Regions from separate parts of the Homo sapiens genome. Here region 1 is linked to region 2. Evidence: fine-mapped expression QTL. Tissue or cell type: transverse colon. Region 2 holds a variant in brackets; the other region holds the start of a gene. All regions are shown on one strand. Distances are from middle to middle.

Region 1 (8,107 bases), 110 kb before region 2:
TCCTGGGCTCAGGTGATTCTCCTGCCTCAGCCTCCCTAGTAGCTGGGACCACAGATGCCACCACACCTGGCTAATTTTTGTATTTTTTGTAGAGATGAGACTTCACCATGTTGCTCAGGCTGGTCTCAAACTCCTGGGCTCAAGTAATCCTCCTGTCTTGGCTTCCCAAAGTGCTGGGATTACAGGTCTGAGGCACTGTGCCTGGCCAGGGATAGATATTTTTAAAACCGCATATTTAGCTTGTGATCTAGAGAGAATAAGAGATCTCAGTTGAGAGGGCAGGAATAAAATACGTTCCACAAGGCAATACTGAGTGACTTAGAACCTATTCCTGCCACTTTTTTTTAGTTTCCTTGATCTTGCGGGTGGAGGGTAAGTGTGTTACTAAGTATGTTCCTGGACAAGGAGTCCCTCTGAAGATAGAAGTGATGAGAAGATAGAAGAAAAGGTAATAAGGCATTAATGAACTCTAATCACACTAAGATTGATGATCGTCTGGTTCCTGTCTATAGGAATGCTACAGGAACTCTTTTACCCTAAAAGTAAATAATAAAGCACAGTTCCAGTTTCTTTTATGTGGATACAAGGTGGCAGTGACTAGAAAAGATAAGAACAGTGCTGTGCTCTAGCATAAAAACGTAATTATGCTATGCAATATGGTAGCCACTAACCACATGTGACTATCGAGAAGTTACAATGTAATTAGTATGATTAGGTAACTGAATTATTTTTATTATATTTCATCTTAATTAATTTTATTACTTTTAAATAGCCACACATGGCTAGTGCCTTCTGTTTTGAACAGTGTGGGATTCATTGGTATTGATAGGCTGGATATACCTCTAGTTTTTATTTTGATTCAATTTATGGTTAGGTGAGTCTAGAAAGAACAAAAGAGAAAGAGACAATGGAGATTAATCATAATAGCCAGCATTTAATGTGTGCTTATTATATATCCAGGCATTTACCTAAACATGTAAAAGGTATTCTGTATAATCCTTGCAAAAATACTAAGATTATTGCTATTTTACAGATGAAAAAATTGAAGCATAATAAGAATTTTACTTGCCTAGAATCACACGAGTAAATAAGGGGTGAAGATGGCATTCATACACAGGTAGTTTTATTAGAGCCCATTCATTTACACTACATAGATTCAGGAATGAGGTGGCATGGAGTGACTGGGGCCATGGTTCCCAAACTGTGCCAAAGTACAAGCTCACAAGGGTATTGTGGAATATTTTTAATTTTCAGAGGAAACACAGCAATATTTTATATTTCTTAAACACTGTGTGACCTATTAACTTGAGGTGATTCACAGTTGGAACATTAGATTGTGCTACATTCCTTTTGATGACAATATATCTGGCCAGGTGTGGTAGCTCATGCCTATACTCTCAGCACTTTGAGAGGCCGAGGTGGGCAGATCAGTTGAAGTCAGGAGTTCAAGGCCAGCTTGGCCAATATGGCAAAACCCCGTCTCTACTAAAAATACAAAAATTAGCCAGGCATGGTGGCAGGCACCTGTAATCCCAGCTACTCGGGAGGCTGAGGCAAAAGAATGGCTCAAACCCAGGCAGCAGAGATTGCAGTGAGGCAAGATCGTGCTACTGTACTCCAGCCTGGGTTACAGAGTGAAACCCTGTCTCAAAAATATATATATATATAAAGACAACATATCTTTACAAAAGATGGTTTTAGAAGGTCCCTCTGATAAAAATTAAGTATTAAGTAAAAAAAAAAAGTACTGTGTAAAAATCAGCATGGAACAGAAAATGAGGGTGGCAGCATTGGATTCCTGCATGTGAGAAGTTGAGTAGTGCCAAACAGATGTACATATCCCGTAAGTAACTGTTTGTGGTTATTTAAGAACGAAATTTTTTTTTCAATTTGTGTGCATTGTTATTTTCAAAGTGCTAGTAAGTTCTCAGGAACCAGCTACTCACTCTGTTGCCCAGGCTGGAGTGCAATGGTGTGATCTCAGGTCACTGCAACCTCCACCTCCCGGGTTCAAGCCATTCTCCCTGCCTCAGCCTCCCAAGTAGCTGGGATTACAGGCGCCTGCCACCACGCCCAGCTAATTTTTTGTATTTTTAGTACAGATGGGGTTTTGCCTTGTTGGCCAGGCTGGTCTCCGACACCTGACCTCAGGTGATCCACCCACCTCGGCCTCCCAAAGTGCTGGGATTACCGGCGTGAGCCACCGCGCCTGGCCTTTATATATAAATTTTTTTTTAATTTTTTAAATTAAAAATTAAATGTAAATTTAATGTAAAAATGTAAATTAAATGTAAAAATTAAATTGTAAATGTGGGCAGAAGTAATAGTTGTATTCTACCAAAGACACGCTATTTATGTTATATTCTGGTACCCGTGTATTCCGATAACAGAATTTTCTTCGTGGGAGGAGTCCTCTAGTTACCTGAATTGCTTGGATCAATATTGCGCAGATCAAGGGATTATCTGTGTCCCTACCCACCAAATCCATCCTTATCCTTTCTGTCGGCATCTAGGACCCCGGAATTCTTGCCTGAGAACTTTTTCTTCTCCCGGTCTGGGCCTGGATGTGCTCTCCTAAACCCTGTATCCTCCAAGTTAGCACTGTTGCCGGGGGCGACCCAGCTTCCCTTGTCCAGGGAGCAACTCAGACACAGTCTCGCTTCATTTTTATTCTGGGGTTGTACAATCTAAGGTATGAAATTTTTCCTTTTTGAATCTCTCACGGTTTGCTATTGACACAGCTGGAATGAGGTTGCAAGGAGAGGGCTGGGGGCTCTCCTCCCTACTTCTAGCCCTATTTCCGCATAGGCCTTCTTGCTGGGAACTCCTGCCCTGCGGACTGGAATGGGTACCGAGATGAAATGCTGGGTGCGCTCCGGCTCCCCCCGCCCGCCCCGGGGCAGAAGGTTTAGGGCTGGGAAGAACTCTGATTAGGTTTACAGCCCAGGTTCAGCCGATTGAATTAGGGTGTGTCACCATGGAGACAGGGCCGGCCCGCGTGCTCGCTTGCCATTGGCTGGGGACTCCAGGGCAAGGGATATAAGCCAGAGCCTAGACCAGTGAGCCAACTGTGCGAACCAGACCCGGCAGCCTTGCTCAGTTCAGCATAGCGGAGCGGATCCGATCGGATCGGAGCGGATCGGAGCACACCGGAGCAGGCTCATCGAGAAGGCGTCTGCGAGACCATGGAGAACGGGTGAGGAGGGCACCAGGCCCGCAGGACCCTTGGGGAGGGGCAGGTGCTGTGACCCGGGAACCTGGCACACTGGGCCCAGAGGGAGCTGGCGGAGGGAGCGAGCGCCCAGGGGATGCAGAGAGGCCTGGCACTGAGCCTAGTGTCGGGAGCAAGGCGGCAGAGTCATGCGGCAGCCAGCGCGGGCAGGGACGCACGCGGGAATCGAGCTGGGGTGGCGCCACCGGAGCAGGAAGGGGACAGGTCGGTGCGGTCTAAGCTACTCCGTAAAAGCAGCCGTTGTGTGTCTCCGTGTGTGTGTTAGGGGAACAAGTGGAGAGTGAGTATATGTATATATCCCTCACTCCATACCAGGAGGAGGTCTCCTCACCCCCTGCGCTCTTCATAAATTCCCATGCTAGGGTCTGGGTAAAGCTGCGAGGTACTTTTGGTGCTCAAATTCGGAGTTCCTCCTTTAGAGGCAAGATTACTCACCTCCTTTGCCAGTTGCACTCCTCCCTTCCTTCCAGACTGGCAGTATGATTAACTCGGTGGGAAGTGACTGCTAAGTGGAGACGGAAATCAGTCACCGAACTGAGCAACAGTCCTGTGCTCACTTCCCCCACCCCACGCCTTTGAAAACTCTTCTCTCGGCTTGGGTCCTGGATATCCCAGTCCAAGTGACCTGCATTAGGCATCACAGTTGCTTTTGGATGCCCAGGGAGCCAGGGTGTTCTTGAGGGGACTGATAGCCAATGAGGAAGTGCTGTGAGATGTGGCTAGACATGCCATGTGGCGGCAGCTTCACACATTCATTTCCTTTGCACCTTTTGGGGATGCCATTTGATTAACATTTTACCAGCTTAATTGCTTCTCTCCATTGTCCTGTGGCTCCGTTGACCAGCCCCCAACCTACCTGATCCAACTGCTTCCCTGAGGGTAGCCTGGTGTATTGTGCAATCATGTCTGGTTTCCCGGGCTCTGCTTTCCAAGTAAAAAATTTCCTGTGAAAGCTTGGTTAGTTGTGTTCAGCTCTGTCACACCTCATTGCCACCTCTGAAAGCAACGTTTGGTCTTCCCAGATGGATGTGAGAGAACTGGACTTGGAACTGGGAGAAAAGTAACACGGGTTGATTCTTGCTAGTGTAGGGGTTCTGGGTAAGTGCCCTGAGGTTTCTGAAGAGCAAAGATCCTCGGTGGAGAGAAAGGAAACTGGGAGGAGGCAGGGAGGGGGAAGGACAGGAAGAAGACCACAGGCAGGTGGAAAGCAGGAGAAAGATTCAAATACTTTGTGTAACAGAGCCATAGGTCTTTGGAAGTTGTTAGCAAGTATTCAATTCATTTTCAGATTGAGCCTATAAGATAGATGGGGCCAATTTACATCCCTTGTTTATACCTGAGAAAATAATTTAAAGCACAAATTACATGCCTAAAAAGACAATATTGGGACTAGAATCTAGGTCGAATTCTGCTTCCCTCCAGACCAGCAATTCCTAAACCTGGTTTTATTTTATTTTATTTTTATTTATTTATTTTGGAGTCGGAGTCTCGCTCTGTCTCCCAGGCTGGAGTTCAGTGGAGCGATCTTGGCTCACTGCAACCTCTGCCTCCCGGGTTCACACCATTCTACTGCCTCAGCCTCCCGTGTAGCTAGGACTACAGGGGCCCGCCACCACGCCCGGCTAATTTTTTTTTTTTTTTTTTTTTTTTTGTATTTTTAGTAGAGACGGGGTTTCAACATGTTAGCCAGGATGGTCTCGATCTCCTGACCTCGTGATCCGCCCACCTCGGCCTCCCAAAGTGCTGGGGTTACAGGCATGAGCCACCGCGCCCAGCCCCTAAACCTGGTTTTAAAATCAAAATTACATGGGCTTCAGAATCTGTTTTTTGTGGGGGTTTTGTGTGTGTGTGTGTGTGTGTTTTTTATAGGGTCTCACTCTGTCACCAGGCTGGAGTGCCAGAATCTGTTTTTCTAACAAGCTTCTGCTGAGAATTTGTGTAGTCAGTCCTGGTTTAACCTTTGACAACCAGTACTGTGGACTGGGTCTGCTTTTTTGTACAGCAGTTTATCTAGTTTTTTGTCTGGAATTAACCCCCTTGTGATCCAGGGAGCTAAGAATGGCACGTAGACCTCTACCAGGGGTGGTCCCATTGTGTTTTATTGGTTAAAACAAAAAAGAAATGTAGCCCTTAAGTCTTTGGCTGAGGAAGGAACTGGAGGAATGAGGGTTCAAAAGGAAATTTGAGTTTATCTCTGCCTTCATAGTAGTTGGTCTTAATTACATTTTGAATGTCTTTGGGGAACAGGTAAGGTAATAAGGGGGATTTTACTAGGTGGGCACCACCCTCAGGAAGGGCTTAATCCCATTTTGAGTACTCTTCTTGGGCTCCCTCCTGGCCAAGCCCTTTTACCCTCCCTAATTTGATTATTTCCTTGCACTTCCCCGTACACTCTGGCCCCTTCCTCTCTAAACCTTTGTCATAAGGATAAGTATGCAGCTTGCCAGTGTTCAGTGGATCCAACACTGGAGTTGGGCCTGTTAGTAGAAACAGGCTTTATTAACTTTTGCCAGGCTCTAGAATGGAGGTAGTTTCATATCAGACTTGTAGTGGGCTTGATTCAGAAAGAAGGGTGGCTGAGTAGATGGAAGAGCATAGTATGGCCTTTCCCTCTGTGCCAGCTTCTCCGTCCCTGCTGCCTCAGTATACCTGCCAGCCTTTTTGCACCGAAGGTCATTTGTCTGTGATGCCCTTGGAATGGGAGCAGAATTCACCTTGATATTTTTTCTCCCCCAGATACACCTATGAAGATTATAAGAACACTGCAGAATGGCTTCTGTCTCACACTAAGCACCGACCTCAAGTTGCAATAATCTGTGGTTCTGGATTAGGAGGTCTGACTGATAAATTAACTCAGGCCCAGATCTTTGACTACGGTGAAATCCCCAACTTTCCCCGAAGTACAGGTACTGGCAAGGGAAAGTGGGGAATGGGACTGAGGGATGTTCTTGGAATTCTGTGGAACACAACCAAGGAGGCCAATGTTTCTACTCCTTGACCTAGCATTTCACTGAAGACAAATGTTGTAAGAGAGGAGAAAAGCCCACCATGAGTCAGAGTGACTTTAGGAGATGCCTCTAGCAGACATCCCATAAGAGACAGGACATGTGTGTGTCAGTGGACTGAGGCTAAGACTCAGAAGAGGGCCAGGTGACAGGGGCCAAGTAAAGGGCAAGGGTTGTTTATTTGGTTTACGTAATTTCTCAAATAACTAACTTCTGTTGGTTTATTTATTAATTTTTAAGATTTCTATCTTCTTTTCCCTGGAGAGTTAAGAATTTTTTTTTAAGACCTGTCAGCAGGAAAAGACCTTTAATAGCTATTTTTTTAAACTCTTTAACACAAGACTGGAAGAGCAGAGGGAGAAGGTGAGGGAAATATTAACAGAGGGTGTGTGAAGGGCATACTTCTCTAAGGGAGATAGTAGTGACGCTGGCTCCACTGGCCACTCCTACCCCCAGTGAGAAGGGCACTGCATTAAATGATAAGTGGGTTAGTTTTTTTAAGCTTATCAACATGTTTATTTTTTATACTCCACTTGGGTTTCCTTTGTCAACTTTATTACTGTTTTTGTTTTGTTTTTTTGCATAAGCTCCTCTATCTTTGAGAATTTCTCAGCTCTTCCTCTTGGTTCTAGTCCCTCTCCCATTCCCTAAGGGATAGGTTGGCCGTCTATTAGAAGTGACTGCCAGATAAAAGAAATGGTAATAATGGCTGTTATGTCTGTGGGGAGTTATCTTTGCACTCCCACGCACCCCTCCGTGGGCATGTGTTCCCATAGGACTGTTCCGTGGGTCATAAGGAAAGAGACACTTGCATGCGTTCAAATTCTTTCCCCCTTGTTCAGTAGCCTCTTCTTTAAGAAGCCAGAGTAAGTATACTATGAGCTTGCTTGCTGGACTGAGGAGGCAGGTAATTAAGTTAGGGCAATAGATAAGAATACATGTTTTGAGAACTTTGAAAAATTTGAAGAGGTCTATAATTACTGCATTCACTGTACTCACTTTATTTTGAAACAGAGTCTCGCTCTGTCACCCAGGCTCGAGTGTAGTGTTGTGATCTCGGCTCACTGCAACCTCCACCTCCCAAGTTCAAGAGATTCTCCCACCTCAGCCTCCCGAGTAGCTGGGATTACAGGCATGTGCCACCACACCTGGCTAATTTTTGTATTTTTAGTAGAGATGAGGTTTCACCATGTTGGCCAGGGTGGTCTTGAACTCCTGGCCTGTTGATCCGCCTGTCTTGGGCTCCCGAAGTGCTGGGACTACAGGTGTGAGACACCGCACCTGGCCTATTTTTAATTTTAATTTTTATAGATTTACAGGGGTACAATGCAGTTTTGTTATATGGATATACTGCGTGGTGGTGACGTCTGTGCTTTAGTGTAACCATCACCTGAGCAGTGAACATTGTACTTATTAGGTAATTTCTCATCCCTCATCCCCATCCCACTTTCTCACCTTTCCGAGTCCCCAGTGTCTATTATTTCACTCTGTAGGTCCATATGTACACATTTGGTTCCCACTTATAAGTGAGAACATGTAGTATTTAATCTTCCATTTCTGAGTATCTACTTTTTTTGCTCACTTTTTACTCTCTGGCAGTATGGCTTGTATTATCTTGAAATTTCTTTAAAAAGCCCTTCCTTCTTTGTGTGTTCATGCTGAACATGCTGAACGCACCCCATATCTCTAATCTTGGGTTGTATTTGTATAATTATTAGTAATGCCTGGCTCTCTCACCAGACTTAAACTTTCTGAAAGCAGAGATAATAATGAGTCTTTTACTTAATTACAACCTAACATTTTGAGCAGAGCGAGTAACTCACAGTAGGTGCTTAATGGATATGTGTTGCATGAAAATATAATCCCATTC
Region 2 (8,107 bases):
ATCTCCGAAGGGACATTTAACATGACAGGTCAGACAGCTCAGCCCACATTCTCACAGAGAACATGGGGTTCCTGGAACAGCCTGAGCTGGGGAGGACGAGGGGAACACATGCATAGCAGCAGAGCCCGGAAGCTTGGCCAGCCGTTGTGACCGTGCCCTTTGACCCTGTGTGAGACAAACCTCAGGACCTGTTCAAGCCTCCAGTGAGGACGCCTCCTCAAAGACCACCTCGGCCAGAGTTGACTGGGGCAAGTCTCTTACCTAAAGAAGGTTTAAGAGGAGAGGGGAGTGTCAACAAGGAGGCAAAGCAGCCAAATGTGCAGAGGGCCTGGAAACTAGAACGGGGCTTAGCTCACATTGCTCTCCTCAAAGACAGCAAATGCATCAATTTGCTTTCCTGGGAGGACTGCATGAGAACATCCCCTTCCTGTACCTATGCCCCCACTATGTTCTATTTTTAATCTTATTTGTGTGGATTGGGTAGGCAAACTATGATAGCCCCTTGATTTAATTTATATTACATTTACATCTTTTTCTTATTAAACTGATGACCTCTTTATATATTAAAGATATCAATCCTTTTGATACATTGAATTTTTTTCAATTATCTACTTAGCACAGTGTCCTTATTTAATCATAATGAAATTAATCATAATGGTTTGCCATTTAATCCTCAAAACAATCCTGTGAGGTAGAATTTTTTCAGGAGCATTCTACCTTTATCTTTCTGTGTGGTTATAAGCAAGTTTGCTGTTTTCCTTCAAATAAAGATGAGTGGCGAAAAGTGTGGCCTACAGAATCAGGCTATCCTCGTTTGCTCCTGGGGGGCCACCTATTATACACGTGACCTTGTACATTACCTACAGTCTTTGTGCTTCTGTTTCTTCATCGCTAAAGGGGGAAGAATAATAGTATTTGCCTCCTGGGCATTCTTCTGAGAATAAAAAGTAAATAAACTAGTGCCTAGCACATCATAAAAGCTCTATTGTTATTATGATTATTACCATTAAACATCTTCGTAATGATTGCTATATATGATTTCGAATAAGTTCAGCATGCTTTGAAACCTGAAGGATTAAGGATTTAAAACAGCCATGTTATCCCAAATCAGCCAGTTCTCTGGTTGCTGGAGTGAAAAGGAGGCATTTCATGTGTGTGACACCTCTTTTAACTTGTCACTGTTTTGGAAACATGAGTTCCTCTTACAGTGACTTTGCGTTTGCTCACAGATGTACCCTATAGTGAAGGACTTTCAGCATAAAAGGACTGCCTTGCTAGTTCTGGGAGACTGTGTAGGAGGTGGAAGCTCTTTGAGTTAAACTGAATTATTTTGCCTCAGTGTTGTCTTCAAAAGCTCTGAATATATACGCAGCAAGCTTTTTTCCTTCATCAGGACTAGAATGTCCTATGATTAAAAAGAGAACTTTAGTTCATCTAATCCAGTAGAGTTCAAACTTTGCAGCACATCAATAAACCTAATGCACTTTTAAAAGACCCACATGCTACAGTCTTATCTTTGATCGATAGAAGCCAAATTTCTGGGATTGGGGCCCAGGGATTTGTATTTATAATAGCTCCAAAAGCTGTTGAATTTGTTAGTGTAAGGCTAAGCTCATGGAATGAAATATCAGAGTATAGTGGGTAAAAATATATAAACATTTTAATCTCATATAACAGTCCCAAAATGAGCAATCCAGGCTAGCAAAATAACTGTGCTTAACAATTATTCAGGGATGTGGCCTCCTTCCATTTTACCGTTCAGGCCATTTCTAGGACATTGCCATTATCTGCATGATTAAAGTTGGGGCACACATGTCCATTTTGGCGATCTAGCTGTTGGGAAGAAAAAAGTCACAGAGGAGGCCAGTCCAATGTTGTAAGACCTGGACTTGGAAGCAGCATGAATTACTTCTGCTCACAGAGACTGGGAAAGTCAGTCTGGCTGGGCATCCTGTGCCTCACTGCATCCCTTTGCCTTGGGAGCAAGGTGGGTTGATTTGGGTGGCTAACCTGAAAACTTTGCCACAGTGATCCTGATGCACATCTATGCCTGAGAACCCAGACCTAATCCAGTTTCCTCCTTGTGTAGATAAGAAAATTGAATCTCAATGAGGGGAAATGACTTTCTTGGAAGGCATGGTGAGCCCCGCCACAGAACATATGAAGACTTATCGGTGATGTGGCAAAGGCACTCCTTCCTTCAGTACCATCTTGGGTACTTGAGGCCAGGGACTTGTTTCTTCATAATTGTTGCTTAAGAGATATTTAATATACTTTATTTTGGGAAAGCAGAGGGAATGTTAGAGACAAGAAGGGTACTCCTTTTAGGCTAAACAACCCCTGTTGGTGTCTTTCACAAACCTCTGTATCCTTCCATCCTCTGTCCATCCTCAGCTTCCTTCTCCTACCTGACTCTCCCTTCTTTGGCCCTTTTTAAATTGGGTCCATCTCCTTTATCATCCCATCTCATGCCCTCTAATGTTTTCTTTCAGCTAAGGGATATAACACACATTCACTTCTCAGTTATTTTTCTTTTCTTTCTTTTTTTCTTTTTTCTTTTTTTTTTTTTTTTTTGAGACAGAGTCTCACACTATCACCCAGAGTGGTGTGCAGTAGTGTGATCTTGGCTCACTGTAACCTCCGCCTCCCAGGTTCAGGTGATCCTCCCACCTCAGCACCCTGAATAGCTGGGATTACAGGTGTGCACCACCACATCTGGCTAAGTTTTGTGATTTTATTTTAGTAGAGACCGGGTTTCACCATGTTGACCAGGCTGGCCTCAAACTCCTGGCCTCAAGTGATCCACCTGACTTGACCTCCCAACGTGTTGGGATAGGTGTGAGCCACTGCGTCCGGCCCACTTCTCAGTTAGTTTTCTAACATGTGCAAGAAACATTTGTTGGACTGTATCTGGAACCCAGAGCTTCCGCTTCCTTCAGAGAAGTGGAAGGGTTTGGTCTTAACTAAGCCTCTTTAAAGGATGCTCCTGGCCCAAAAAGAGCTAGCTATTCTGGGTCTTTGTTTTCTCTTCTGGTGAGGGATGATATGAGTACTCAATTTGAAGTAGGCAGCATTTACTTTTTCTTACACATTAAAGAAAACTCTCCCAGAGTTTAAATAGTTAGGCTCTGAGGCTGACATGACTCTCAGCCAGAGCTGGAAATCTACTGTCGGAAAGAAGTTATTCAAATCTGAACTAAATTTGAACAAGAGGAGACTGCTTAGACTACTCTACTGTGGATGGAGTCCACCCTTCTTTTTGATGAGTGGGTGGTAGCATCAGACTCACTATGTGGAGCTATCCCTGGGATGGAACTCGGTAAGCACATCTTCCTTTCTGGGTCCTGAGTCCTCCTCCTACAGAGAAGAGACCTTTGGGACCCAAGCATTTTGCTTTATTGCTCTGTCCTTTGGCTGCCGAGTGCAAACTGAGTCCTAATTACATACCTGTTTGGCCAAACCCACATTGATTATTTAAACAACGCCTACACTGACAAGGGAAAGCCAGCTCAAACGTACAAAAATGTTGCTGTAATGCTGCAAATTGGTTGATTGTAAATGTTTTACAGTTCCAGTATATTGAGAATTCTGCACCAAATATGATAAAGCTTCGGGAAAATGACATATAGAGAATTATGTACAAGAAAGATGTTACCATGACATAATTTACATACATTTACATGCATTTAGTTAAAATTAGAACATTAAGAAAGAGTGGTCTCAGGATGGAGGGAGGATTTAAGGAGAGGAATAGAAACATATGGCCACACATCGATGAAGAAGATAACTGTCCATACTTTAAGCAGAATGTTGAACCACGAACGTTTGCAAATAAATAGCTGGTAGTGAACAAAATTAACTACAGTATCATAAGACATCAAGGTTGAAGACCAGTCCTGCCTGGTACTTAGCACAGACTTTCTATTCCCATCTTTCTGGCTCCTCTATTCTTCCATGGCTTGCCATTCCTCTCCCACAGCCCCAGGGTATCAAGACTTGGCTTGAATAAAGATTACAATAAGAATTTTCTTCTCTTTACAGCAACCTGTGAAATAGAGATGGGGGTGGAAGAATGGAGATTGCATAGGGCTGGAGCTATTGACACTGAGAGCATCAGCTCAGCCAAAGAATCTTTTTCCTCTGGCATTTCCTGAAGGACAGGCAGACTCTTTGTTATGTGCATACATCAATTCACACAAGTGTGAGCACATACCCTTTGAAGAGAGTAGTGATAATAATATATGTCACACTCATTCACTATTTTTCTGAATAGTATCATTGGCAGTACAATTAGCTTTTCATTGTCCATATTGGCTTTAGTCCTTGTTTCCTTAATTCTGCCTAGTTAGGTGGATTCTGTTTCTTGGCTTTATAGCTGAGCTAGGATGAAATTCAGTTTGTTTTACACCCTCCCCACCCTCCCCC[C/G]ACACAGAGAGAGAGATAGAGAGAGAAGAATCTGCACGCCAGTATCAGTCATAACTTTTAATTGAATTATCCACAATTTTGGATTTTTCACTCCTCCAGTTAGAATAAATAATCAGGAGTTCACTATAGTGCTAAAGAGTAGATATTAAGGAAAGGTTTAAACAAGAATGAACAAGAAGAGGTCCTTCTTTAGTAAGACCCTAGTCCTAAAGCTCTGTGGGATTTACAACTTAGAGCCACAAACTAACCAGCTCATCAGAGAATGACCTGTCAGCACTGTCAATATCTTCTCTAATGAGGTAACACTATGGTATTGGCACCTGGGGAATTGTTTGCCTGTAGTGAACTGGCACACTGTATTTTCCAGTTCTAGGCTCTCACAGCAGCTTATGCCAGGATTCTGTACAAACTTGCAGCTGGGGGCCCTGTGGACCCTGCGCATCACTTCTGTGGAGCTGCGGATGAAGTTATTGCTCCACTTGCACGATCCGTTTGCTTCTGAAACTTTTCTCCAGACTGTCATGTCATTGCAACACTCTTTGTCATTACCCGAACTGTTTCCCTTGGGGTCATTATAATGTAAACTTCTGAATGTCAGTAATGTGGAAGACATATCATCCTTGGACATGCTGAGGCTGGTATTTTTAACTAACAGGATCGGGTTCATTAATATCTCAATGGTCTGTTTTTCTTGGCCACTTTTTGCCATGTCATATTGCATCTCTTCGTCTGTAAATTCTTCTTTAATTATCTTCATTGTGCTTTCTGATGCTTCTGCAAGAACCAGGCCCAGGCTGAGCAGCAGCAGAGGAAAGGTCTCCATCTCAGATGTAGTGTAATCTCTTCTGCAGTAAAGACAATAAATGAAAGATAAAATAAGAAGATTAAAGAGGTAGTTCTTTCTTCCTCCTGACAGTTATTCCTGGTAGGGACCCCTACATGTAGGTTAAAATTTTTATATCTGTGAATGGAACTATGATATAATAGAAAGACAATCAGCTGTGGAGTCTGAAGACTCATGTTCAAATTCCTGCTTTTCTGCTTATAATTTATTCAACCTTATTTAACTCCAGTTTCCCCATCTGAAAAAAATTGTGAGAATTACGTAAGGTGACATGTTTAAAGATCTACAACCAAGTATTTGTTTCTTATCCTTTTCCCTTGGTCTATAATCTCATTGGTGGGGTGTATAATCTCCATGGTGGGTCACGATTCTCACTCAACACATTCCCTCACCATTACTGTATCTCCTATAGCCTCATATAGAACCTGGCACATGGTAGCCACTCGAAAACAAAATAAAACACACATTGCCATTTCCCCATCTCTCATTTCTTTTGCCACCCATTCTCATTCATAAGATTTCTGTCTTTACCAGTTCCTTCGGCAAGTTGATCCTGTAGAGGAAGATTCCACTTTGTTGCAGAGCTAAAAGTGAAATCGTGTTTGTTTCCTGGGAGTTTCTGCTGTTGTGTCTAACTGAGGGAAGGAGGGGCAACAGAGGGGTAGATAGGGTTGTATGAGATTGACTCAGGAGACCACGTGGAACCAAGGAAGCTCAGGGAGAACTGAACAAAGTGCCCATTTGGCAGTCGGAATCCCAATGACCTGGGCAGTACCATTGCTTCTTATTCTGTGAAATATTTTCTGTCTATTTATACCAAAACCCAGCATGACTTTTTTGTTTTCTGAAACCCTACAGCACAGATTAAGTTGCACTTCATTTTATATGATCTTTTTCATTTTTCCAGTTAGTCAATTCATGTTAATCTTTTCTCCCTCTTGTTAGGCTAAAAATTCCTCGAGCCTGAAACACAGTTTCTGATTATTTATACTTTTATTCATATAGAATCAAATAATGAACTGTAGATTAATAAAGAATCTGCACTCCAGGATCAGTTATAAATTTTAATGGAATTATCCACAATTTTGCATTCTTCACTCCTCCAGTTAGTATAAATAATCAAGAGTTTACTATAGTGCTAAAGAGTAGATGTTAAGGAAACAGGAAGAAGAGCAGAGCAGAAATTCTCAGTCTTTCTGAAACATGTAATTCAAGTGGGCAGCATTCATAGCTGCCTGAGTTTTATTTAGTGTGTGTAATTACTGCACACACACTAATTTCTCAACACTATTTGTTAACAACATAACATGACCTTACTAGTATATAAAATCCTTTACTTGAGGTCAATCCTGGAAAATCCCTAAAGAAAGGTTATTTAAGTTAATAATTATTTCTCTCTCTTTAGAATGATTCTATTTTCCTCTTTTTTATGTTCCACCTCTAAAGCCACCATCCCTTCTACATTGATCTCCTACATTATTACCCTTACTTCCCTCCTAATCACCCCTTCCTGACCCTCCAATTTCTTCTATACACTACTTTTCTAAAAACATAACTTGCAACAACACTCAGAATTTTTGAAACATTCCTCTTTGCTCACAGTAGGAAGTCTGATCCCCTGAGCCCAGGAGCCAATGCTCCACTTGCTCTCATCTCAATCTGCCTATCGGGATTTATCTCCCATTATTTTGCTACACAAACCTGCCCTAGTCAATCAGTGTGACTCTTTTTTTAATATACCCTATGCCATCTCTCCCACTTAGCTTCTTTCTTGAATGGCTATTCTTTCCTGCCTCTTGAAATCCTTCAAAGCCCAGTTCAGATCTCATTCTTTATTTTACATGTTTCATCACCGCTTAAGTCTACTAAATCCATTTCCAACTTCTCTGAACTTCTTATCATTCCCTTCTTATACCACTCATTTGATGTTATTATGTATGAACTTTTAAAAAATTATATTTGAATTTAAAATGTCTGTGTGAGAAACTAGAGGAAAAACCTAGCACCAAGAATACATAAGCCTTAATTGGGTTGATGGATTATTGATAGATTATTAAGAATTAAGTATATGTGTCCAGGTGTGTGTCCAAGGATGCCTTGACCAAAGACCTGATACATTTTGAAGGCAGAAAGGATGAGGGATTTATAGGGAATTTATTTTGTTTCCTAAACTTCTATATCCTATACCATTGACATCAGTAGTGAGGTGACAATAGGGAAACAGAAAGACCAGGAGGAGAAAGATAAACAGGAAGAAGAGCAGGGCAGAAATTTCCAGTCTTTCTGAGACATATATTTCAAGTGGGCAGCATTCACAGCTGCCTAGGTTTTATTTGAAACTGCTAAGAGGTGCCCTTTAAAAAAATATACCTGGCTGGGCACAGTCACTCATGCCTGTGGTCTCATTGCTTTGGGAGGCCAATGCGGGAGGATCACTTGAGGCCAGAAGTTCAAGACCAGCCTAGGCAACATAGTGAGAATCCATCTCTACAACAACAACAACAACAAAAAGCCAGTTGTGGTGGCATATGCCTATAGTCCCAGCCACTCGGGAGGCTGAGAGGAGAGGATTTCTTGAGCCCAAAAGTCTGAGACTGCAGTGAGCTGTGATCACACAACTGCACTCCATCCTGGGCAACAGAATGAGACTCTGATCCTATATATCTGTATAATATATATGTATATACATATTTAGATACAGATAGATAGATATAGATACACACACACCCAAACTACGAATGTCTAAAATGTCACAATTCATTTGAATTTGGTGTTGATCCCTATTGAATGAAATTACTCTGAGGATACATCCTATTGGTTCATCTCAGTTATACTTTT

What was found. PIP is the estimated chance that this variant, and not a neighbour inherited with it, causes the effect.
Region 1: it holds the start of PNP, and the variant in region 2 is fine-mapped to the expression of PNP in transverse colon (GTEx, PIP 0.98).

What each region holds. Positions count from the first base shown.
Region 1 is chr14:20,466,340-20,474,446 of GRCh38, forward strand. PNP (purine nucleoside phosphorylase) reads left to right here and starts at 3,067. Exons shown (of 6, transcript NM_000270.4): 1 at 3,067-3,196; 2 at 5,969-6,138. The coding sequence starts at 3,186. RefSeq lists enhancers at 2,834-3,338, 3,529-3,598, 3,629-3,758 and a silencer at 2,999-3,118.
Region 2 is chr14:20,579,227-20,587,333 of GRCh38, forward strand. RNASE11 (ribonuclease A family member 11 (inactive)) reads right to left here. Exons shown (of 3, transcript NM_001394190.1): 3 at 3,666-5,270. The coding sequence starts at 5,248. The coding sequence ends at 4,649. Among named protein-coding and RNA genes, the nearest start is that of RNASE11, 4.7 kb to the right of the region's middle. The variant C/G (reference allele first, on the strand shown) is at 4,426.